Regions from separate parts of the Homo sapiens genome. Here region 2 is linked to region 1. The links come from fine-mapping of genetic effects on gene expression. A gene starts in region 1. The other region holds a variant in brackets. All regions are shown on one strand. Distances are from middle to middle.

Evidence for each region. PIP is the estimated chance that this variant, and not a neighbour inherited with it, causes the effect.
Region 2: its variant is fine-mapped to the expression of ZNHIT3 in whole blood (TOPMed, PIP above 0.99).

The regions. Positions count from the first base shown.
Region 1 is chr17:36,483,008-36,495,377 of GRCh38, forward strand. It overlaps ZNHIT3 (zinc finger HIT-type containing 3), which reads left to right and starts at 3,674. Exons shown (of 5, transcript NM_004773.4): 1 at 3,674-3,778; 2 at 3,928-3,959; 3 at 9,806-9,892; 4 at 10,919-10,999; 5 at 12,216-12,370. The coding sequence starts at 3,693. It overlaps LOC105371749 (a long non-coding RNA gene), which reads right to left and starts at 3,672. Exons shown (of 3, transcript XR_934710.4): 1 at 3,580-3,672. It also overlaps the pseudogene RNA5SP439. RefSeq lists an enhancer at 3,395-4,328.
Region 2 is chr17:36,454,996-36,467,522 of GRCh38, forward strand. It overlaps the pseudogene TBC1D3JP. Among named protein-coding and RNA genes, the nearest start is that of TBC1D3F, 22 kb to the left of the region's middle. The variant G/C (reference allele first, on the strand shown) is at 8,414.

The DNA of each region.
Region 1 (12,370 bases):
ATGTCCGAAGTGCATATCAGAGCATGGACTTGGTCTTCCCAGCGCTACCAGACCGCTGAGCCTCCCCGCACGTGGTGGGGCGCAGGCGGGGCGCCAGCTGCGCGGGAATCCGGGCGAGCGCGCTCCACCCGGGCAGTGCGGGCCTGGAGCGCCCTCTGGCGGGACGGTGCGCGGCGTTGCGCGTCTCCAGCCTTGGGATTGGCCCGGACTCGCCTTCAACGCACCGGACAGCGCTGCCAGGAGGCAGAGCTCTGAAAACCTCGACAACGACGCCTCTCTCTTCAGTGCCCGCACTGCGTCCCAGGCTGACGCCAAGGAGGCCCAAGACAGCCCTGGGTGGCCATTAGGACGGGTCTGGAGGGGACATCAGTGTGGACATCTAGTTGCTGGGCCTGGGGTCACAGCCCCCTTTCTTGTCTGAACTGGCCACTGCCCGGAGGAGCTGCGCTGTGCGCCTTAGTGTGCCACCACCTAACCGCCATCGCGGCTGAGCCCACCTCCTTTCCCGGACATTAGAGGACGAGGGGTGCGAAGGTCGGGGAAAGCTGGGGGCATCCAGATATCCAGAGTAGAGGAGGGGCCTCTTCCCTGCGTGGATGTGCATGGGAAGGATTCCAGGAATTTAATTTTCTTTTCTTTTGAGATGGAGTCTCGCTCTGTCACCAAGCTGGAGTGCAGTGGCGCGATCTGGGCTCACTGCAACCTCCGCTTCCCGGGTTCAAGGGATTCCCCTGCCTCAGCCTCCCTAGTAGCTGGGACTGCAGGCGCGTGCCACCACACCTGGCTAATTTTTTGTATTTTAGTAGAGACGGGGGTTTCACCATGTTGGCCAGGATGGTCTCGATCTCCTGACCTCGTGATCTGCCCGCCTTGGCCTCCCAAAGTGCTGGGATTACAGGCGTGAGCCACCGCGCCTGGCCGAATTTTCTTTTTTCTTTTTTTTTTCTGGAGTCATCATCTCTCCACTCGCAGATAGGGAGTCAGCGTGGTTTGTATGCAGGTGGGAGGGACTGAGCCCCTGAAAATGGTTAGGATTGTCTCTGGCCTCAGCCTTGGTACACACATCACAGGACAAATCAAGCAGACAGTGGTGAGTCCGCCACAGTGGGCAAATTTCTACCCGTGCCAGACAGTGTACAGGATCTTTTGTTTTTTTTTCTCTCTCTCTCTTCCTTTTGAGACAAGGTCCTGCTCTGTCACCCAGGCCGGAGTGCAGTGGCGTGATCTCCACTCACTGCAACCTCCACCTCCTGGGCTCAAGCGATTTTCCCACCTCAGCCTCCCCAGTAGCTGGGATTACAGGCTCAAGCCACTGCCCCCCGCTAATTTTTGTATCTTTTTGGGTAGAGATGGGTTTTTGCCATGTTGCCCAGGCTGGTCTTGAACTCCTGGGCTCAAGCCATGTGCCCGCCTTGGCCTCCCAAAGTGCTAGGATTACTGGCGTGAGCCACCTTACCTGGTGGGGCACAGGATTTTAAATTAAATTTTTTTTTTTTTAATTTTTAGAGACAGAGTCTTGCTCTGTCGCCCAGGCTGGAGTGCAGTGGCATGATCTTGGCTCACTACAATCTCTGCCTCTAGAGTTCCGGCGATTCTTGTGCCTCAGCCTCTCTAGTAGTTGGGATTACAGGCGTGCACCACCACACCCAGTTAATTTTTTCTATTTTTAGTACAGACAGGGTTTTGCTATGTTAGCCAGGCTGGTCTTGAACTCCTGGCCTCAAGTGATCTGCCTGCTTTGGCCTCCCAAAGTGCTGGGATCACAGGCGTGAGCCACTGCGCCTGGCCTAAATTTTTCGTCTTTAAGACGGGGTCTCTCTCTCTCTGTCATCCAGGCTGGAATGCAGTGGCACAATCATAGCTCACTGCAGCCTTGAACTCCTGGGCTCAAGTGAGCCTCCAGCCTCAACTTTCTAAGTAGCTGGGACTACAGGCTGATGCGACCATGCCCGACTTGGCACAGGATTTAAATATGGCCCTGGACAAGTCACTGGCCTTCTCTGGCCTTCCCAGGTAAGCTTGGACTTTCTGGGATGCTTCAAGTTCAAATCATCAGTGGTACAACTGTTGAACAATATGAGGAACGCTGCGGGTTACTGGGCCTGTGTGGACCCGTTTTGGATTCTAAGCTGGGTCCTGGGCAGAAGTTGGAGGCTGGGGCAGCTGCAAGCAGGACAGGCAGGTGGCCAGAGGGCCCAGCAGCTTCAGCACTGAGGACTGGACTGGGTCGCCACGCCCAAAGGAAGGATAATTACTCACCTCCCACTCAAGAAGCAGGCGGCAGAACTGTTTTGGAGAGCATGGCTTGGGGCCTGGGACCTATGTTCATGCGGTCCAGACGGAGATCCATGAGAGTTAAGACTCTTTCTAGATATCAGGTAGCACTTCTGATTACAAAACTTTTGCACATGGTCTCCTCTCTGCTTTACAACAGCTCAGGAAAGTAGGCCCAAACATCCACTTTAATAGATGAGGGAGCTCAGAGGGGGTAACCAACCCCTCCAGGTCACACAGCCAGGGAGGGGGTTGAGCCAAGGTTCAAACCACTGCCTCGGTTGTTGCAGATACATCCCTGCAGACACCTTTATTGAAGAGGGACCCTGAAGGCTGAACGGCCAACACAGAAGAGGAGGCACTTGGGAGTAAGGGTGATTTATGGCCCTGGGAGGGCCCAGTGCAGGTAGGATGGGAGCTAAGGTAAGGCTGGGCCATGCCTAGCTGCAAGCAAATTTCCTTAAAAAACAAACAACAAAAAACATTACTTTTTCTAAACCTAAAGTTTGTGGTGGCATTCAAGTCCCATCATAGCCCATCTATCCAGACTCATCTGCCTGGGATCCCCGTCTTGGGACTAGTGGTCACTGGCCTGCTTCCTGGTCAATTAGCTTCCGGGACTAGGGGGAGGTGTGAGGAGCCTAGAGTGCAAAATTTAAGAAGCACTCAGTCTCAGGGGCGTGCAGGTGCAGGGTAGCGACGGCAGGACTCTAAGAGTGAGTCTCTTTCCTCCCCGTTTCCCCGTCCTACTTTCACTCTAAGCATTTAGTTCCCAGGGGACAGAGACGACTTCTTCATTAGAAGACCCCGGGGGGTCCCCAGCCCGGAAGGGCTCACAGTTGGAGCTCAAACATTTGCCACTGTTCAGGCTCATCTTTCTTTCCCCAGTGAAAAATGGTCTAGGTTGGGAAGGGCAGGTTCCTGTCTACTGCGTGATCCAACCGATTCTGGTTCGCCCAATGTCTGGACTTGTCCTTTGCCAAGAATAAGCAGATGAGATGGGCGGATGAACCCCAATGTCCCTGCAAGATTCAGGAAGTCCCAGCCAGAAAGTAAAGGACGTTTAGTTCCATGTATTGTTTTCTTTTTTACATGCGGGGCAACACACCTGGACAGTGTCGATGGCTTGCTCCAAGCCACACGGCCGCATAGGGACAGGGACTGGGCTACATAACAAGTTCTTCGACGCTGTGATCTAATCAAGGAAAACCTGGGACGCAGCTAATAGATGCGCATCGAGTGTATCGACGCTCTAAGTACGAGGGCTGGAACAGTGAGCAGGATCAGTCCATTGCTTTTGCCTACCTGCTGAGCGCTGATTGGTCCCCGTTTAGGAAACGGAAAAAGGGGCGTGCACGCGGGCGCGGCTGCGTGAGAGGCGCGCGGCGGCGCAGTGAACAGTCTCCTTCCACAAAACCATGGCGTCGCTCAAATGTAGCACCGTCGTCTGCGTGATCTGCTTGGAGAAGCCCAAATACCGCTGTCCAGCCTGCCGCGTGCCCTAGTGAGCGGGGAGGTCGCGGGGTCCAGGGGCGCGGGTGTCCGGCCATGGCGGGAGGGCGGGAGGCCGGGAGGCCGGGCGGGAGCGGGCGGGCTGCTGGAGGGGCCGGGGACCCTCGGGGCTGACGCGGCCTGTGGCCTCTGTTGTTACAGCTGCTCGGTAGTCTGCTTCCGGAAGCACAAAGGTGAGCCCCGTCCCCGCCAGCCCTCGTACCACTGCGCACGGGGCAGCCCCCACGTCCAGCCTCCGTCTTGGGGGCGTGGACCCTTGGGCTGCGCTTCCTTTCCCGCCTCGGGTCTCCGCGGGTTCTGCAGGAACCTTGCTTCCTCTGACTTGGTCCCTGGTGTCTCTGTGTGTCGGACAGTTCCCTCTGTTGTCCCTGCCTGTAATCGCTCTCAGGGTTTTGGTCAGTAGCCTTTCTTCTACCCCGCTTCTCCTTCTGCGTGTTACTCTTTTTTGCTTAGAAATAGTTTCCGATTGCTTTTCCCACCGAGGTCTACCCTAGCAGTTTCTTCCTCAGTATTCTGATGTAGCCCCTCACCATTTGGCTGAAACTGCGCTAACTTTAACAGTATTTTCACTCGTGTAAATAATGTCTTGTTAGAAACAAAGAGGTAAGTCCATGTACAATACAAGGAGACGTCCTTGATTTGTTAAGAGAAAAAAAGAACCAAGTAAGTTCTGTGTATGATGTGAACACACTTTTGTACAGTTAAAAAGAAGTGACCTGGCCGGGCGCGGTGGCTCACGCCTGTGGTCCCGGCACTTTGAGAGGCCAAGGCGGGTGGATCACCTGAGCCCAGGAGTTCGAGACCAGCCTGGCCAACATGGTGAAACTCCGTCTCTACTAAAAATACAAAAATTAGGCGGGCGAGGTGCGCGCCTGTAATCCCAGCTACTCAGGAGGCTGAGGCAGGAGAATCGCTTGAACCCGGGAGGCGGAGGTTGTAGTGAGCCGAAATCGCACCACTGCACTCCAGCCTGGGCTACAGAGCCAGACTCAGTCTGGAAAAAAAAAGAAAAAAAAAAGTTTGATGTAGGTGGGGCGCGGTGGGTCACGCCTGTAATCCCAGCACTTTGGGAGGCCGAGGCGGGCGGATCATTTGAGCTCAGGAGTTTGAGACCAGCCTGGGCAACATAGCGAAACCCCGTCTCTATAAACAAACAAAGCCAGGCGTGGTGGCCTGTGCCAGTGGTCCCAGCTACTCAGGAAGCAGAGGTGGGAAGATCGCTTGAGCCTGGGAGGAGGAGGTTGCAGTGAGCCAGGATCGTACCACTGCACTCCAGCCTGGGAGACAGCAAGACTGTCTCAAAAAAAAAAAAAAAAAAAGCTTGATGTAGATTCTTTCAGCTTATTTCCACTCTTGTACCAATATATAGAACTTTTTTTTTTAGCTTTTAGAATCTCAGCAATGAGACTGTACCCAACATCCTCATTTGAGTTTATATATTGGGCACTTTTTAAAACCTAGTGCATACAGGCTGGGCGCAGTGGCTCATGCCTGTAATCCCAGCACTTTGGGATGCCAAGGTGGGTGGATCACCTGAGGTCAGGAGTTCGAGACCAGCCTGGCCAACATTATGAAACCACATCTCTACTAAAAATACAAAAATAAGCTGGGTGTGGAGGTGCGCGCCTGTAATCCCAGCTACTTAGGAGGCTGAGGCAGGATAATTGCTTGAACCATGGAGACGCAGGTTGCAGTGAGCCAAGACTGCACCACTGCACTCCAGCCTGGGCAACAGAGTGAGACTCCATCTAAAAAAAAATTAAAAAAATTAAAAATAAAGACTAGTGCATACAAGTTCTAGCTCACTGACTTAAAGGACTGTATGTTATTTCATTATATAGTTGGTACGACCATTATTTATATAAAGCCTCCTATTGGTTGATTTTTCTTTTTAATATTTGTTTTTAATTGACACATAATTGCATACAATTTGAGTTACAGTGTGATACTTCGATACCTGTATACAATGTTTAAGGATCAAATTAGGGTAATTAGCATATTCGCCCCAAATAATCATTTCTTCATGTTGGGAACACTCGCAATCCTCTCTTGTAGCTATTTGAAAGTATAAATTGCTGCCAACATGGTCACACTAAGGTACTGTGTAACACTAGAACTTATTCCTCCCATCTAGCTGTAATTTTGTATCCATTAAGCAACTTCTCCCTAGCCCCCTACACTCTACTCTTCCTAGCCTCCAGTTACCACTATTCTGCTCTCTACTTCTGTGAAATCAACTTGCTTAGCATCCACATGTTAACAAGAACATCTTATGGTGCCTGGCTTGTTTCACTTAACATTATGTTCTTTGGGCTCATCCATGTTCCTGCAAGTGACAGGATTTCATGGTTTTTTATGGCTAATATCCAGTGTATATATGTACCGCATTTCTTTATCCATCTGTTGGTGGATCCTTAGGTTCATTCCTTATCTTGGCTGTTGTGACTAGCAGTAAACGCAGGAGTGCAGGTATCTCTTCGGCAGACTGATTTCATTTCCTTTGGATATATATACAGTAGTGGGATTGCTGGATCATATGGTAGTTCTATTCGTAGTTTTTTTTTAGGAACCTCTATGCTGTTTTCCATAATGACTATACTAATTTACATTCCCAATAACAGTGCAGTGTATAAGAGTTCCCTTTTCTCCACATCCTTGCCAACATGTTTTTTTCTTTTTGATAATAGCCATTCTTACTGTGGTGAGATGATACCTCATTGTGGTCTTGACTTGCATGTCCCTAATAATTAGTGATGTTGAACATTTTTTCATGTACTTGTTGGCCATTTATATGTCTTCTTTTGAGAAGTGTCTGTTTGGCTCATTTGCCCATTTTTTTTTTTTTTCTTTTTGAGACAGAGTCTTGCTCTTGTCGCCCGGGCTGGAGTACAGTGGCGCAGTCTCTGCTTACTGCAACCTCCGCTTCCAGGGTTCAGGTGATTCTCCTGCCTCAGCCTCCAAAGTAGCTGGGATTACAGGTGCCTGCTGGCTGATTTTTGTATTTTTAGTAGAGACAAGGTTTCACCATGTTGGCCAGGCTGGTCTTGAGCTCTTGACCTCAGGTGATCCACCTGCCTCGGCCTCCCAAAGGGCTGGGATTACAGGGGTGAGCCACCATGCCCGGCCCATTTGTCCACTTAATTTTTTTTTTTTTTTTTTTTTGGCTGTTGAGCTCCTTGTGTATTCTAGATATTAATCCTTTGTCAAGTGAATATTTTGCAAATATTTTCTCCCATCCTGTGGGTTGTCTCTTCATTCTATTGTTTCCTTTGTTGTACAGAAGCTTTTTTGTGTAATAGAATTCCATTTGCCTATTTTTGCTTTTCTTGCCTGTGTTTTTGAGATTTTATTCATAAAATCTTTGCCTAGACCAATGTCCTGAAGCATTTCCCCTGTGTTTTCTTGTAGTAGTTTCAGGTCTTACATTTAGGTCTTTAATCCATTTTGATATTTATATATGGTGACAGATAAGGATCTAGTTTCATTCTTCTGCATATGGTTATTCTTACAGTTATCCTATTTTTCCAGTACCATTTATTGAAGAGTGCTTTTTTCCCCAGTATATGCTCTTGGTGCCTTTGTGAAAAGTCAGTTGGCTGTAAATGTGTGAATTTATATCTGGGTTCTCTATTCTGTTCCATTGATCTATGTGTCTATTTTTATGCTAGTACCATGCTGTTTAGATATTATAGCTTTGTAGTATATTTCGAGGCCAAGTAGTGGTGATGCCTCCAGCTTTGTTCTGTTTGCTCAGGATTGCTTTGGCTATTGGGGGTCTTTTGTGGTTCCATATTAATTTTAGAATTTTTTTTTGACATTTCTGTGAACAGGATCATTGGTATTTTGATAGGGATTGCATTGACTCTAGATTACTTTGGGTAGTATGGTCATTTTAATATTTATTTTTCTTATTGGTGGATATTTACATTAATTTTGCCTTTGTTGCTGCTATAGGCAGTGTTAAAGTGGTATTTAATAAATAATTTTTATCAGAAATTTCTAATAGCCACATCTGTTGTACACTTTTCATTTGTCTTTTTTATTTTTTTGCAACAAAGTCTTGCTCTGTCACCCAGGCTGGAGTGCAGTGGTGCTCACTATAGCCTTGACTTCCTGGGCTCAGGCAGTCCTCCTACCTCAGCCTCCCAAGTAGTTGGGACTGCAGGCGTGTGCCACCATGCCTGGCTTATTTATTTTTAATTTTAATTTTTGTGGAGATGAAGTCTCACTGTATTGCCTGGGCTGGTCTTGAATTCCTGGGCTCAAGTGATCCTTCCACCTTGGCCTCCCAAAGCGTTGGGATTACAGACGTGAGCTACCCATGCTCAGCCTGTCATCTTTCTTGATTCCCATGAATATCTGCTGTGTTTGGCTTTTTCTTTCTTGATATTCTTTGGAGGCTGGGAAGATACCGCTCTGTGGTATTCTCTCCTCCCTTTCTCCCTTCGAAGTCCTAACCAGGCCTGACCCTGTTACAGCTTCTGAGGTCAGATGAGATAGGGTGCATTCAGGGTGGCTTAGCTGTAGACTCTCGTTTTCTTTTTTTTCCTTTTTTCGAGACAGGGTCTTGCTCTTTTGCCCAGGATGGAGTGCAGTGGTGTGATCACAGCTCATTGCACCCTTGGCCTCCTGGGCCCAAGTGATCCTCCCACCTTAGCCTCCTGAGTAACGGAGACAAACTTTATCTATTTTTCGTAGAGACAGGGTCTCACTGTATTGTCTAGGCTGGTCTTGGACTCCTGGGCTTAAGCAGTCCTCCTGCCTCAACCTCCCAAATTGCTGGGATTACAGGCAGGAGCCACTGTGCCCAGCTTCTCCTTCCTTTTGCTAGATCTCTCTCTTGAAATGTGGTCCTTGACTTTTATTCCTAGGTAGGTGATCTCTCTTTCACTTTAAACTTTTTTTTTTCTTGCTGACATCCAACTGTTTAGCTCCAGCCTCTTTTTGAGCACCTTAGACACAAATGTATTTTGGGGTCAGGTACAACCCAGAAAATTCACCTCTCCTTCAGTCCCTCCTGCTGTGTTCCTTACACATATAGCATAGCCGTAAAGTTAGACCCGGATTCCAAATCTGCCTCTGCTACTTACTAGCTGTGGACCCCAATGGACAAGTTTATTACAAGAAAATTTAATCCTTTCATCTGTAAGTGGAATTAACAGTCTCCATGTCATGGGGGCTTCGTAAAGGTTCATTGAGCCACTATGTATCTCACTGTGTACCTGGCACAGTGCTCGGCACTTAGTCACTGGCAGCTGTTGTAACTGCCACCTACATGACTAGAACCTTTCCGTAGCATATTGTCAAATCTACATTTTAAGTCTCTACAATCTGGTCCTGCCTTTATGTCCTCAGAACCCTTTCCTGTGACTTCATGCTCTGTTGATACTGTCACCCAGGCTGGAGTGCAGTGGCACAATCACAGCTCACTGCAGCCTTGACACACTGGGCTTAAGGGATCCTCCTGCCTCAGCCTCCCAAGTAGCTGAGACCACATGTGTGTACCACCATGCCTGGATGATTTTTTTTATTTTCTGTAGAGACATAGTCTTGCTAGGTTGCCCAGGCTGGTCTCAAACTCCTGGGCTCAAGTGATCCTCCCACCTTGGCCTCCGAATGTTAGGATTACAGGCGTGAGCCAGCACAGCTGGCCTTCTGTTGACTCTGTAAGTTCTTTGGTGGTTTTGCCCCTAGTTTTATCCCATCTGGTATCTGGTTTACAGCAGCTATTTCAAACACCTCAGTTAATTGTGGTGAGAATTTTGTAAGATTCGGCAGGGTAGGGAGGATGGGGACAGGTTCTTGGGGTGCATGAATGAGTCCTGCTTTCTCAGCCTGCTGGCGGTTTTCCTTAATCTCTCTCTTGCTTTGATCTCTCACTTCTTCCACATTCCTGGGCACCCACCCACATCCCTTACCCCAGACACTTGCTTCCTACCTAGATGCTACCTTGGTAGGGAGGTGCAGCCTTGTCGCTGAAATGGAGGTAATGTGGGCCTGGGATTTGTGTCTTTTTCAGAACAGTGCAACCCTGAAACTCGTCCTGTTGAGAAAAAAATAAGATCAGCTCTTCCTACCAAAACCGTAAAGCCTGTGGAAAACAAAGGTGGGTTGGTTGACTTCAAACAAATCTACAAGGGACTTCACATAGAATAAGTCGAAGGAAAAGGGGAGAGTGGGGCTGGTCAGGGAATCCAGAACAATAGCTTCATTGGGAAGGAACAGCTTCCTTAGCCTTGAGCATCAGGAGTGGGGCCATGTCATCATGGGTGATATTGAGGCAACAGCCTGAAAGCAGTATTCAGGAGAAGAAAAATGGGCAGAAGACAGAGATGAGAAAGGCCATGGCTGTGGTTTGGGGGTTTGCGGTGGGCCCTGCTGGCAGGAGCCTTCTCTAGCCCATAGCTGCTGGTCTCCCTCCATGAATCTGGCTGGGACTGTCAGTTCACCTGAACTCAGCCCAGGCAGGAGGCTTTCTTTGTCCTAGATCATCTCGCTGCTGCTGGGGGTTCAGAGCTCACAGCAGTAGTGGGCTGTCAACCCATCCGTCCAGCCATCTAAACGTTCTTTAATACCTCCTGGGTGTCAAGCACCATGCCAGGCTCTGAAAGCAGCCCCTCTGGTGCCACCAAAGAGGTATTGAACATTCACTCCAAAGGCATGGCCCATTTTTGCCCTTTGAGAAATTTCCAGGTTGGGTTCAGGCAATGCCAGCAGTTTCTGCCCATGCTGAAAGCACAGGAGATTCTACTTGGCTGGTTTTTACAGAGCATCCAGTTAATTGGCCCATCACAGGGTTGGAGCCATGTTGAGGTGGGGATGGGTATTAAGTTATTAGACAACCGGGGTCTAAGCCTAAAGACCACAGGACCACATATACAGTAAGGATGTGAACACTAGAGTGCATTTGTTAAAATCACCAATTCTTTCACTTAGCCTCCCTCTTCTAAAAAAGGAGTGTTAGTATAGTCACAGACTCCGGAGAAGAGGATTTTTGTCTGTACCTGCTTGAATACCCCTATCACTATCACATGTGCGTGCACACATTTTTATCCTGTTCAAGTAGTGGTTAAAATCTGGTGCCCAGGCCTCCTTTTTAGCCATGAGCCATTGACTGTTTTGTATTCCTTAGATGATGATGACTCTATAGCTGATTTTCTCAATAGTGATGAGGAAGAAGACAGAGTTTCTTTGCAGAATTTAAAGAATTTAGGTAAGTCTGTGCTATGCTTGTCAATCGTTGAGATACATTTACTGTGTTGTAAGGATTGTGATTTTTTAAAAAGTTTTTAATTTCTTGAATAAGTATGGCATGTAGGGCTCTTACTATCTAGCCACATAATCTGTAAACATACAGGGTTTCACACCTCCCAGCCTGCCCACACCATTCCTTCTGCCTGGAATCCTGCTGGTCTTGTGGGTTGGCAAAATTCTGCTCCTCCTTCAAGCCTTGGTTCAAGTTTTCTTCACTCAGCTAAGCTTTTCTTGACCTTTTGTGTCTCTTTCAGAATTAGGCACTTTTTTGGTTTCCCATAGCAACTTGGACTTAATAGTAATAAATCACTGTTACATTTCATGGTAATTTGTCTCTCACATACCGATTTGTACAGCAGGGACCTGTATTCCCAGATCCCCAGTGCTCAGCTCACAGTCCAGCCCTTAACACAAACTGGTTATCACATGATTTGATTTAGGGGGAAACAGGTGTTGCCATTTTTGTAGCACTGCTTATTCAGTCCTTACAACATTCTGTTACATGTGCATGGGGTCTGTTAATTTCATTCTTCCCATTTCACAGAATCATGTTAAAAGGTTATGTTTTGCACTTAGTCTCATGGTAATGATTAGTTAGACTGAGTTTGGAGATGAGCTAGTAATAGGTGTGAAAAATTTTACAGACTGTGAAGTACCATGCAGGTATTATTGTTGGTTCCCTGCTACTGGTGCTGCTGCATGCCAAATGGCATGCTTAGACATCATTCAGATTATTTCGTATAGCCGTCTTCACCACTGGCAACTTTTATGGCTAGAAAGAAAGAAAACATGCCAGCAGCTTAATGCTACTATTTGCTTTGTGATTGTGCTGATAAAGCATTTTTTTCTTAGCTGAAGTGGCACGAAGTTACAATATTTACAAAGATACCAAGAACTGGTATCTGTTACTGCATTTAATGCGGAAATAGTTTGATATGCTGGTCTTACCTTTCATTTTATAGAGGTGGGGTCTCGCCATGTTGCACAGGCTGGTCTTGAACTCCTGAGCTCAAGCAATCTGCCCACCTTGACCTCCCCAGTTGCTGGTATTACAGGCATGAGCCACCACACCTTGCTGATAGTTTTATTACACTTGAAATAGCTCTTCACTTTTCAGCCATCTCCATGTGTTTCCACTTGAACTCAGACTGGCTTTTTTTCTTGTTAATTTTTAGGGGAATCTGCAACATTAAGAAGCTTATTGCTCAATCCACACCTCAGGCAGTTGATGGTCAACCTCGATCAGGGAGAAGACAAAGCAAAGCTCATGAGAGCTTACATGCAAGAGCCTTTGTTTGTGGAGTTTGCAGACTGCTGTTTAGGAATTGTG
Region 2 (12,527 bases), 28 kb before region 1:
TCTCCCGGCCACCGCTCCAGCCCCTCCTGGGGCGACTCCTTCATCCTCCAAGTCTCCAGGGTGGCCCCTATGCACCCAGCCTCTCCCCGATCCGTCAGCCCCTGGCCACCCAGACTGCTTCTCAGTCCCTGTGGTTTGGCCTTTTCCAGAATGGCCTAGGAATGGGAATCCTACGGTGGTAGCTTATTGGGTCTGGCTTCTGTCCCTCAGCAAAATGCATCTAGGATCCACCCACATTCGTGCGGGCATCACTGGCTCGTTCCCTTTTCTCACTGGGTCTTCTGTTTGAAGGGAGGACCAGCCTTGCTCTCCCCATCCCCGTGTTGAAGGCCGTCCCCGAAGGCTCCGTGTGTGAGTGACGAGGAATCAAGCAGTGAACCTGGCATGCAGGTTTCATGTGGATGTCAGTTTCCAAATCAGTGGGTTCAATATCTGTGACACTTTGGGGATGTGTGGTTCAAGTCCATTGAGCTTTGTGAGCCACTCCCAACTGGCTGCCAACGTGGCTGTGCCATGTCATGTTCCCAGCAGACCTGGATGAGAGTTTCCAGGACCCCTAATTCTCCCAGCATTTGGTGCTGTCATTATTGCCTGGGGGAGCTCATGGGCCCTCTATCCTGCCACCCTCCCGTGGGTCCTACCATGGGTCCCCATGGGTCAGGGAGAGCACCCTTCACCATTGTGCATGATTTTGTTTGCTGCCTTCCATCTCCTCAGGATCCTCCTGGGTTCTGGCCCCACATGTTCCAGTCTGGCCCAGGGCTTGGAACCAGGGAGGTGCTCGGTTCATGGTGCCGGCTGCTCCCTGGGTCGGGACAGTTCTTGGCACCTGTGTCATCCCTCCTGGGTGACCCTGGCTTCTACTCCAGGGAAGCCCCCATCCCTCTCATTCACCCCATCTCTGCTGGGACCCTGTGGCTCCCGTAGGCTTACTTGGTTCCGTATCGATCCCTGAAGAATATATGCTTCCTTAATGTCCCGCTTACGTCCAGGTCGATGTGGTGGATGTGTTCAGATGACCTCTTGCCCTTCTCCTTCATGATCTGTAGGGCAGGGCCAAGAGGAGGAAGCAGCCTCAGAACAGATGGAAGGCTCCCTGCCCCCAGTGGCAGTCAGCCCACAGTCAGCACTTTGGGAAGGAAGGACAGAAGGAAGGTTTCTTTGTGCAGAAAGCTGCTTTTTGGCTTGTTACTGAAGCCGGGGAGGGTCACCAGAGCCCAGTTTGTCTGTGGTGACTGTGTCACCATCTGTGCCCAGGGTGTTCATCTGACCTTTGCCCCCACCCCCTCCAGGGTGTGCTTGACGTTCCCTCCAGCTGGAGACCTGGGCCCCTGACACGGCCTGTCCTGTTTGTTATGCTCTGGCTGAGCGTACCTTGTATTTTCTGGGGTTTTTCGACTTGATTTCCTGAATGTTCAGGAGGACTGACCACACCAGGCCCCGGATGTTCATGGGAATGCCCTTGTACACTAGATCTATCAGCTGTGTGCAAAAAACAATCTGGTATCACAGGCCACCGGGTGACCCCAGTGAAGACCAGAGCCCAAGGATTCTGGAAATTGTCGGTTTTGGCCCCATGATTCCTCGGTAGAGGTGAGATCAAGCTGGGACAGGGCCTCTCTTCCCAGGACTGAGAGTGGATGGACACTCAGAGTCAAAACTCTGATCTGAACCTTTTCCTTCCTTCAGGTCACCAGGGCATCCCTAGCCTTGAGCTCCGGGTAGTCCCAGCCCTAGATTCAGATTCCCTCCCAGCAAGGTGACGCTTGCACGAATAGGCAGGAAATCTGGCGACCAGGCCTGCAGTCCTCTGGGCGAGGACAGTGTGCCACCCACCCTCTGAGAGGCTGACGGTGCCAGGCCACAGCCATGGGTGCCTGTCCCCTGTCTCTGCAGAGAGTGCTTCCAGGGGCCTCTCCCTCCACACATTACTTTGGTACTGTTCTTATATGTCTCCCATTCTCCCAGCATTTCCATCCACTTGCTCGTTCGTCTCATCTCCCACCACATTTGCTGTCAAATGAGGTATGTTGGAGTTAGTGGAGCTGCCAGGCTTTCCAGAGCCACCCGTGGATGCTGGGTCTTGGGCTCTGGACCCCTGGTGGGAGCCAGCTGGAAGGAGCCAGGGAAGGGCAGACCTCAATGGCTGAGAGCCTTTGAGCAAATGAGCACCAGTGGGCTGGCTTTGGGACCTGGGGACATGCCATCCTCAGGCCACAAACACACCAGTCTTAGGTCCCAGCCTCTAGGTGGGGTCCTGACACAAGCGGGCAGCCACTCCCAAGCCAGGACTGTGGTTCTCACTTTGGAATTTTATCAAACTGCCAAAGTCACAGCAACCTGGGGTCAGGTCCAGCAGGGACTGCTGCCCCTCCCAGTGACAGCGTGTTGCCCTCACCCACCACCGCCCAGGCCAGCTGCCTCCTCTGCCTCACCGACCACCTGCCCAGTCCCTACATCCCTGGACCAGCCCCTCCATGCATCAGGTTCTTACCTTCACCTCCCACGCAGTCAGAGGAGGCAGCTCCGTCTCACTGTAAGACAACCCAGGCAAAGCTGAGGACCTGCACAGGGCCTGGAGCCATCCCAGACTGGGAGCCAATCCCCAGAAAGGACTGGCTCTGTCCCTATCCAGCTCAGGGCTCAACCCAGGAGAAGGCACAGGGAAGGGAGGACAAGGGCCTTCCTGTGGGGCTGACTCCCAGAAGGGGCAGGACCTGGGAGAAGAAGGAGTGTAGGGACAGCCTGGCTGGGGTTACTGGGGCCCCTGGCGTGGGGGGCGGTCAGGCTGCCCAGTGGGGCTGCCCGTCCTGGACTCGAGGTGGTGCTTTCTGCTGGAGCTGAGAAAGGTTAGCCCTGAGGTGGGATGGGGGCCGCCCAGGGTGGGCGACCGGGCCCTGACAGGAGTCCCTCAGGGAGTGACCACATCACCCTGCCAGGGTCAAGGGAGCCTGCCCTGAGACCTGCCCGGTGTACTCTGGGTGCCCCAGGGGCCCATCCCCCATGACAGCCCCAAGGCCCTTGCAAGTTCTGACCTCCCAGCATCCACCTGCCTCTCCCTGCACCAGAGCCACACACCCTGCATTTCAGAAGTGGCACGGCTCATCAGCTCCCTCCCACCCTACCTCCCCAGGGATCCTCTGTCTCTCCATCCTATGATCCCTGAGGGATCATCGATCCGGTCTCTACTAAAAATACAAAACTTAGCAGGGCATAGTGGCACGCACCTGTAATCCCAGCTGCTCAGGAGGTTGAGGCAGGAGGATCACTTGGACTCGGGAGGAGGAGGTTGCAGTGAGCTGAGATTGTACCACTGCACTCCAGCCTGGGCAACAGACTGAGATTCCATCTAAAAAAAAAAAAAAAAAGTTTTCTGGGCACCACATTCCAAGTTTATGTAGTTTTCAAGGAAAATAGAATACTGGGCCCTTCGTAGTCCAGGCCTTAGCTTTGAGTCTATAAAAAAAAGTGCGTTAGCCAAGCACTGTGGCTCCCTGTTGTAAGAAGTCCCAGCTACTCTGGAGGCTGTGGTGGGAGGATTACTTGAGCCCAGGGGTTTGAGTCCAGCCTGGACAATATAATAAGATCATGTCTTTTTAAAAAAAGGTTTATTTATTTTTTTAGTTATTAAAAAGTAGAGATGGGGTCTTGCTATATTGCCCACGCTGGTCTGGAACTCTGCCTTCAAGTGATCTTCTTGCCTTGGCCTCTAAAATTGCTGGGATTACAGGTGCGAGCTATTGCACCCAGCCAAAAAGCTGGTGCAATAAAAATTCCATCTACACTCTACCTTTTTTTCCAATACTATAGCATAATAACTATATTTTCCTTTGTTTGGTGAGGCAATCTCCGTGTCCTCTGGTGTGTGGTCTCTGCTATTACTAAGAGAGTCAATAATCTTTACTTAGTTGAAGTACAGGTCTGTCTCTTATGGTCTTAGGCCAATTGGCCCAGGACAGTCCTCACCACAACCCTGAAGGAGGGGCTGTCTTGACCCCCTTTTTCTAGCTGGGGACACTGAGGCTGAGGAAGGTGAAGGGATTCGTTCCTGTGTTGTACTTGACATGTGAGCTCAGGACAGTGTTGGTTTCTCCAAAGCCCACCGCAATCCTCTGCCTGGTCCTCTTCTGCCCAGTGCCCCTGGCCTTAAGCCATGGTGGATTTCTGTTTAGGGCATGCGTCAGACCCTTCCTTGAGCTACAGACATCGGAGTACAGGGCCCCGGCTCCCTTGTTTCTGCTCCACATACAGAATGGGTCCAGTAGCACTGAACCCAAATCTGGCATTATCTGGTCTACAAATACCCTCCCTCTCACTGCCCTGCCACCCCAGGTCTTGGAGGTACCAGAATACCCTATCATGTACTGGGAATCCCATGTGACTGGACTCATGATGTAGACCACACAAACCCAACCAAAGACCCCTTTCCGGCCATGCTGGGTCCCTGCCCACAAGGGGCAGGTTTCTGACTTGAGGTTGAGGGTAATCACCCAGGGTCGGCACAGGACATGAGGAAGGAGATGGAGCCTGGTGCCCCCACCTCAGACCCCAAGCCTCAGCTCCCTCCCTATAAAATGGCCTCCCAGTGGATTAAAAAGTACACATATAAAGCACTTGGTGCCAAGCATAGCAGATGCTCAGGGCACCTCAGAAGTTAACTGGGTTACTTATGAAAGAGGGTTTGCTGGAGCAGCCTGCTTGCCGCTCACCAGCATCCCTCTCATATCTGTTCCCATGGAGGTAGGGACAATGCTGAGGACTGGCTGGGCGAGGACAGAGGCTCCCGGGGTGGTGTGGGCGTCTGGTGGCAGCAACAGGGCTGCTGCAGGAGCATGTAGTGTGTGTCAAGTGGTAGTGGCACAGCTGCTCAGAGGGAACTGCCTGCCCGGCACTTCACTCTCATGCCCTGGCACTTCACTTTCATCATGAACTCATTCGTGCCTGTGCGCTGGATCTGCCATCATCCACATATGAGTTGAGCTCCCTTCCTTTGCCAGCCCTGGGTGAGGCACCAGGGGTAGGAGGGTGGGACAGGGAAATGACCAGGGCATCTCCCAGGCTTTCTGGAGCTCTCAGACCTCCCGCTTCTGTTTGGGCTGGCTGCCTCGTGTTCCTGCTATGAATTGTCATGCATGAGTGTTTCTGCCCCTTCATTTATGGGGTCCCCAGGCACTCCACTCCCACCCCATGACATCCCATTTTTCTGAGTCTCACAGCTTCTGCATTTTAGTTCACTTCTTTACGTTTGTGAGGTACATTCTCTGGAAGTTTCCTGGCAGAGGTACATGGAAGGTAAAGTTTTCAGACCCTGAACATCTAATGATATCTTTTTTCTACTCTTACATTTGATCAATATTTTGACTAGATATGTACTTCCATATGGAGATAGTTTTCCCTCCAACATTTGAAGTTTACTTCTGTATTCTTCCGGTGTTGCTGTGACAATATCTAGTCCCTAGGGGGTGGACTTCTTTTCCCCCAGAAGTTTTAGGATCTTTTGTTTATCCTGTAGGCATTTTTCAAAATTGCCAGTGCTGTGCTTTCTATGGTATTTTTTTCACGCATTATGTGGATATGTGGTATCAGTTCCTTCAGCTGGTAAACATATGCTCTTCCATTCTGGGGATTTACAAAAATTCGTTATAATAATTTCCTCCCTATTGTTTTCTCTTCCTAGAATTTCTACTAATACGAAGTTAATCAACTAACTCTTTTCGTCTCCTTCCTTCCTTCCTTTTCTTTTACTCCAATTCTCCTTCCCCTACCTCCAGCTAACTTCCTGGGAGATTTTTTCAACTTTATCCTCCAATCCTACTGAATTTTTATTAAACAGCTTAAATTATTTAAAACATTTTTCTTAAGAGATGGGGTCTCACTTGTTGCCCAGGCTGGTCTCAAGAGATCCTCCTACCTCAGCCTTCAGAAGCTCTGGGATTATAAGTGTGAGCCACCGCACCTGGCTAAACAGTTTAAATTCTAAAAGCTCTTTCTTTTTCTTAGACTAGTTCTTTCTTTCCATCAAATTGATTTTGTTTCTGTTTTTGTCTTTTTGAGACAGTCTTGCTCTGTCGCCCAGGCCGGAGTGCAGTGGCACAAACTTGGCTCACTGCAACCTCTACCTCCTGGGTTCAAGTGATTCTTGTGCCTCAGCCTCCCGAGTAGCTGGGATTACAGGACTGCCACCATGCCTGGCTAATTTTTGTATTTTTGGTAGAGATGGGGTTTCACCATGTTGGCCAAGCTGGTCTCGAACTCTTAGCCTCAAGTGATCCTTCTGCCTCGGCCTCCCAAAGTGCTGGGATTACAGGTATGAGCCACCACATCTGGCCTCAAAAAGGCTAACAATCTTTGACTATCTCTTCCTGTCTGGGGATGAGGCATTAAAAAGCTGCTCAGAAGTTCCAGCAGAAGGGGCTACTCCTAAGAGACACAGGACCAGAAAATACAGACTCAAAAGTAGGCCTTGGTGCGCTGGGGCTGCCCCTCATCCTCCACTGGGCCTTTGCATCTGTTCTAGGCTCACAGAGAGAGCAGAATGGGAAACGGGGACCATTCCAGGTGGTGTATGGAGGGTTGCATTTGCTCTGTGCACTGCCCAGTGTGATGTTCCTCAGCCTTACTGTAGGTCATCCAGGTGGTAGAATTATTCTGGTTTATACAGATGCTGAATTATTCTATTTGGCGGGAGCCTTGCCACCCTGGGCTTCAGGGAGACCCTCTCCCAGGGCCCCCTGGGTTTTTCCCATTCTAGCAGGCTTGCTGAATGCGTTTGGATTCACATTCTTCCCCAACAACTGCTGTCACAGCTCTGGATTGGCTACCGCAATGAGAAGGTAAAGCAACACTTTGTGTCTCACGACCTGAGGGCCCAGCAGGTGTGGCCGGCAGCCAAATCCCGACATCTGCACTTCCTCCAGGCTCCTGCCCCTCCCCACGGTGTGCCCAGCAGTCTCCTTTCCTCAGTGGATGCTGTTCATGTCCTTGCCATGGCTGCCAAGCCAGCCAAGAGGTAACATGTTGGTCCTCGGGCCACAGAAGCCCTCTTCTGTCCCTCCAGGAGGATTACTTTGTTAAGAGCCTGGAGTGGCTGTTTGTTAACTACCATAGTAACCATAGCAGTCTGGCTCTGAACAAGGGAACCCCATTAGCATCAGCTCCTTGATGGATGAGGTGGAGAGCAGGGGACAGGGAAGAGGATGTTGCTGAGAAGTTTGAAGAAGTTAGTCATTAGGAGTCTTGGTGACTGTCCCGTGCCCTCTCTGCCCTTCTGTCTCCCCTAATGTGTTCACTAATACCCACCTTTTCTGTCTCTTGGGGTCACTCTAATGTCCATGGTGACACTTGTTATTATCTATTGCCAGGGGACCCACAATGTGAGGACCATGAGGGAGGGGAGTTAGATCTTCCTGCCCCATGGTTGACAGTCCACCTCAACCATGGGGCAGAGCAGCCCCTCAAGGGGCTGAGCAGCACCATCTGTCTCAGACATCATCCAGGGTGTACCAGCAGGCACCCTAGAGAAGGAAGGGGGCCAGCTACAAGAGTCAAAAGCAACATGATTCAGTATGCAGCACAATCATTTTAAGAATCCTGATTCTGGGCTGGGCGAGGTGGCTCACGCCTGTAATCCCAGCACTTTGGGAGGCTGAGGCAGGTGGATCACTTGATGTCAGGAGTTGCAGACCAGCTTGGCCAACATGGCGAAACCCCATGTCTATCTAAAAACACAAAAATTAGCTGGGCATGGTGGTGGGCACCTGTAATCCCAGCTACTTGGGAGGCTGAGGTAGGAGAATCACTTGAATCCGTGGGATGGAGGTTGCAGTGAGCCAAGATCATGCCACTGCACTCCAGCCTGGGTGACAGAGTGAGACTCCATCTCAAAAAAGGAAAGAAAGAAAGGAAGGAAGGAAGGAAGGAAGGAAGGAAGGAAGGAAGGAAGGAAGGAAGGAAGAAAGAAAGAAAGAAAGAGAAAGAAAGAAAGAGAAAGAAAAGAAAAGAAAGAAAGAAAGAAAGAAAGAAAGAAAGAAAGAAAGAAAGAAAGAAAAGAAAAGAATCCTGTTCTGGGACAGCTCAACAGCCCTGAGGCCACCACCTGCTCTTTGCCATAGTGTGAACTCATCCCTGACACAGAGCCCAGTCCCCTGGGGCCCTGCTCACGGGGTCTAGCCAGAATGCTCTCCACAGCTCGAAATGGAACGGCCTAGCAGTTGGAGATGCCAGACGTGAGTTATTGAACACATCTGCCGAGACCAGAGACCAGGACACGACATTTGTATCTACCAAATGAGTGCTGGCAGCTAGCTCTGCTCCCCTGGAACATCCTCTCAAAACCCTTTTGCCTTGACTATTATCTCATCTCTCTCCTGGCCTGCACTGATCCTTGGCCGACTCTAAGAAGTCACCCGTGGGG[G/C]CCTGGGGCAAGACAGGTCATGGTTCTGGGCACCAGCACTGCCATCTGGCTGCTTCTTCTGGCCTCTCTTTGCTGGACTAGTGCCTGGCCCAATATCATGCCATCATGATCACGCTCAACTCGAGGGATATCATTTACTCCTTCAAGGGCAAGATTCTAGACCCCTCACTGCAGAGCCCTTCACTGGGGACACCCGGTCTTCTTTGCCTGCTTGGACATTGAGGGTGGAGGGAGGAAGGGGTTGTGGGCATCCATAGAAGCTGTGGGGGGCATCCAGAAATAAGGGAGAGAGGCATCTTCACTGCTGGCGGTGTGCGGGACCAATTCCAGGGATTGTCTGACTGCGCTCCCCCCCACCACCCCATAGGTAGCAGGGTCTGCTGGGCTTGGATGCCAGTGGGAAGAATGCGTTCTTCGAGAGTGAGTGGACCCTCCTCTGGGCTCACTGGAGGGGACGGGTCTGGAGCAGGCAGAGTGAGCCGCTGCTTGCGGGATCCGGGATGGAGCTCAGGAATGGAGCTCCACACTCTCCCAGCTGCCTGGCCCGGGACAAGCATTGGCCCTTTCTGGGCCTCCTCAGGAATCTCCAACCTCCGAGGCGATTCTAGTTTAAGCCTGATGAGGCAGACGTGCATCCGGGCGGATGATTAGCCGGTGTGGGCGCGGCCTGGAGCGGGCCCAGGCTGGGGAGTGGCGGCTGCACGCGGTGACGACTGTGTGTTCGCTGAGTCAGGGCCCGGAGCGCTTCAGCACCGCGGCTTGGACAGCGCCCCGGGGCAAGCGGGTGGCGCTCTCCCTACAGGGACAAATGACCCCAGGGCCGGCATTTCTGACCTAGAGAACGGGCCTGGATTGCTCTGGCGGGTTCTGAGCCTGGGGTTGGGGGCGGGTGGGGAGCGGACGAAGTGGGGGCGGCCTTTGGAGACGATGGCAATTTACCGCCTTAGGCGGGCAAGCGCACGAGTCCCGGGAACCCTAAACAGGTTGGGGTGCCCCTTGGGGTCTAGATGAGGCCCGGGCTTGCGATAAAGCGTGGCGGCGTCTAGACATAACGTCCCATCTCCTGAACCCGTCAAGGCCGGTGGCACCCAACCTGGCGGGCTCATCTAGGACCAGTCCACACCCAAGGCCCCAAGACCCAAAACCTCCTGGGCTGGGTCTGCCTGGCTAGGGGCCCCTCATCCTGGGCTCTACTCTTTTGGCGCAGAGGCCATGTGGCAGGCCCCTGGTCTGCGCCCTGCTCAGCTTCCCCTCCCCACCCCGAAAAGTGGAGAGCCCCACGGCTTCCCCAGAAAAGCAGTCTGCTCCCCGCGCCCCAGCGCAGCTCGTTTACTATGGGTCAGGAGAGGAATCCCGCCTTTTTTCCGCAGCGAGGATGGCCTGGGCTCCTGCGCGAAGCGAGGCTCCGTCCTGGAGAGGCTCAGTGACCCGGCAGTGGCGCCGATCCGGGTTAGCCAGGGCCGCGCTGGGACCCGCGGAGTCGCGTGATGCAAACGGGAAGGCGGGAGCAACCCAGCTCCTTCCCGGTGCTGCCTGGCTGCTGCATAAGCCGCCCTTTCTTCCCTGACAAACACTGTCCAGATGGGCAACAGGTCCGTGTCTCCTTTGGCAGCCACTGTCTCCAGAAAGGCATTGGGCAGTTAAGGTGGTCAGAGCCCTCAGGTAAATCCTCCCTCTCCAGGAGTCAGCCCTTCCAGCTGCGGGAGGGCAGGTAGTGGGATGCGGGACCTTCGCAGGGCTGGGAGATGTCATCAACTTTTACCCTCACATGGGGAGAGTGGGAGTGCTGGGCCTGGCGGTCCTCTTACGTCCTTACTGTGCAGCTTGGGATTCTAGGTTGGAAGGAGTCACCCTACTGCTCAGTCAGCTCTATTTGCCACCTGCCCAAGAAGACCCATGGGAATGGAGGCTACAAGACACTCTAGGGCACAGTGACAAGGAGGGATTGATTCCAAGACTCCTTGGAAGAACCAGATCCCTGAGCTTCTCAACAAAACAAGGGGCCACCTCTGGTCTTTGCCCTCCAAAGGGGAAGGCAGGAAAATTGTTAGAGGCAGATTGGCAGGAGGGGCCTGTGGAGTGTGCAGGGGGCCAGAGCCAGTTCCTAGAAGTTGAGCAAGGGGATATGGGCACCAATGCACACAACTGTGCACTGGGGGCCTCTGTCTCCTATCCCCTGGTCCCAAGGATGTCATGATGGTTTGACCTGTCTTCTAGGACATTCTCTAACTAGGGCAGCAGCCATGCCTGTTGACCTGGTGAAACAACTCCAGCCCTGGTACCCTGTGACATGACCCAGGAGGTGGTGACCATATGTGGTAAGTGAGTTGGGAAGCAGAGTGGAGGATGAAGAGGACCACCACAGGCGCCAAAACAGCAGTCTCAGTGCAGGGGACCGGGCTCTGGGAAGCAAGGGGCTGTGGTCCTCAGTGATGCTTCTCGGCTCCCAGCTAGAGCTGCAGGAAGTTGTGGACAAATTCAGCCAAGGACTCTGAAACTCAGGTGAAATAAATAAAGAGAGAGAGAGAGAAAGAGAGAGAGAGAGAGAGAGAGGAAGGGAGGAAGACAGAGAGAGGCAGAGGCAGAGACAGAAAGAAAGAATTTCAAAAGATGCAGGCGAATCAGCCCTCCTTCTGCCCCCTGAGCCTGTGTCCTGGACTGAGTCTGAGATGGGAGGTGAGACGCTGCTGGGCCTCCCACCAATCTTAGTTTCTGTAGGTATTTCTCCAAAGTATGGGTTGGTTGAGGGTTGGTTTAAAACATGTTTCTGGCTGGGCATGGTGGCTCAGGCCTGTAATCCCAGCATTCTGGGAGGCTGAGGCAGGCAGATCACTTGAGCCCAGGAGTTGAAGACCAGCTTGGGCAACAAGGTGAAATCCCGTCTCTACAAAAAATATAAAAAATTAGCCAGGCGTGGTGGTGCATGCCTGCAGTCCCAGCTACTCAGAAGGCTGAGGTGGGAGGATGGCTTGAGCCCAGAGGGTGGAGGCTGCAGTGAGCCTAGTCTGGGTGACAGAGTGAGACTCTGTTTCAAAAAAACAACAAAACAAAAAAACCGCAATGTAGTTTCTGACTTTCATGCTGACTGTAGAACTTAACTTTTATGAAGAAACATAATATATTTCAGAACTTTATAGCAACTCTGGTGGCACTGCAGAGTCAGGTCATTCTTCCTGGACTTCTGTCCACTTCCATTATGGGATGTCTCCACTGAGCGTTGCCTACATCATCTCTGAATTTGAGGCCTAAAGTGTGACCAGATTTAATCAAATCCTGCTTGGAAAATATAGGCCCATTCAATGGTGATCCATTCTGGCTAAAGACTTTTTTTTTTTTTTTTTTTTTTTTTTTGAGACGGAGTCTCGCTCTGTCGCCCAGGCTGGAGTGCAGTGGCACAATCATGGCTCACTGCACGTGATCCTCCTCTGCCTCCCAGTGTCAAATTATCCTCCCACCTCAGCCTCCCAAGTAGTTGGGACTGCAGGTACACACCACCACACTCAGCTAATTTTTATATATTTTTTGTAAAGACGGGGTTTTGCCATGTTGCCCAGGCTGGTCTCTAACTCCTGGGCCCAAGTGATCCTCCTGCTTTGGCCTCCCAAACTTCTAGGATTACAGTCATGAGCCACTGCACCTAGACTAGAATCTCTTTGACTGTTTAAATGAATTACAAGATAATTGGCATTTTTAGTACATAGGACTAACATTCCATCATTTATGTACTCTTTAAAGTTTTTCAAATTGTTGTATAATTTCCCCCACAAAGTTTTCGGATAGCAATCTTACAGATTCCCCTGAGAATGTTGGAAGACAATGGTGGGACTACCCAGGCAAAGCCAGAATAAAATAAGGTTTACAATTCTGGCTGAGAAAGGAAGTAGGATTAGGCATGTAGTTAAAAGGGAACCAAATTTTGGTATTTAATAAATAAAAATTTGCCGAATGATGTGATCTTTGATTATGTCTATCTTAACTATTCGAAAAACCAAAGCAACCATTTGACAGTAGATCAATGTCAAGTTTTCTTTCCACAAGGAATTTGACACCTGGACTATTCCGTGTGTCTGAAACATTATCTACACAGATAAAGGTGAAGGCCTGAATTGCCCAT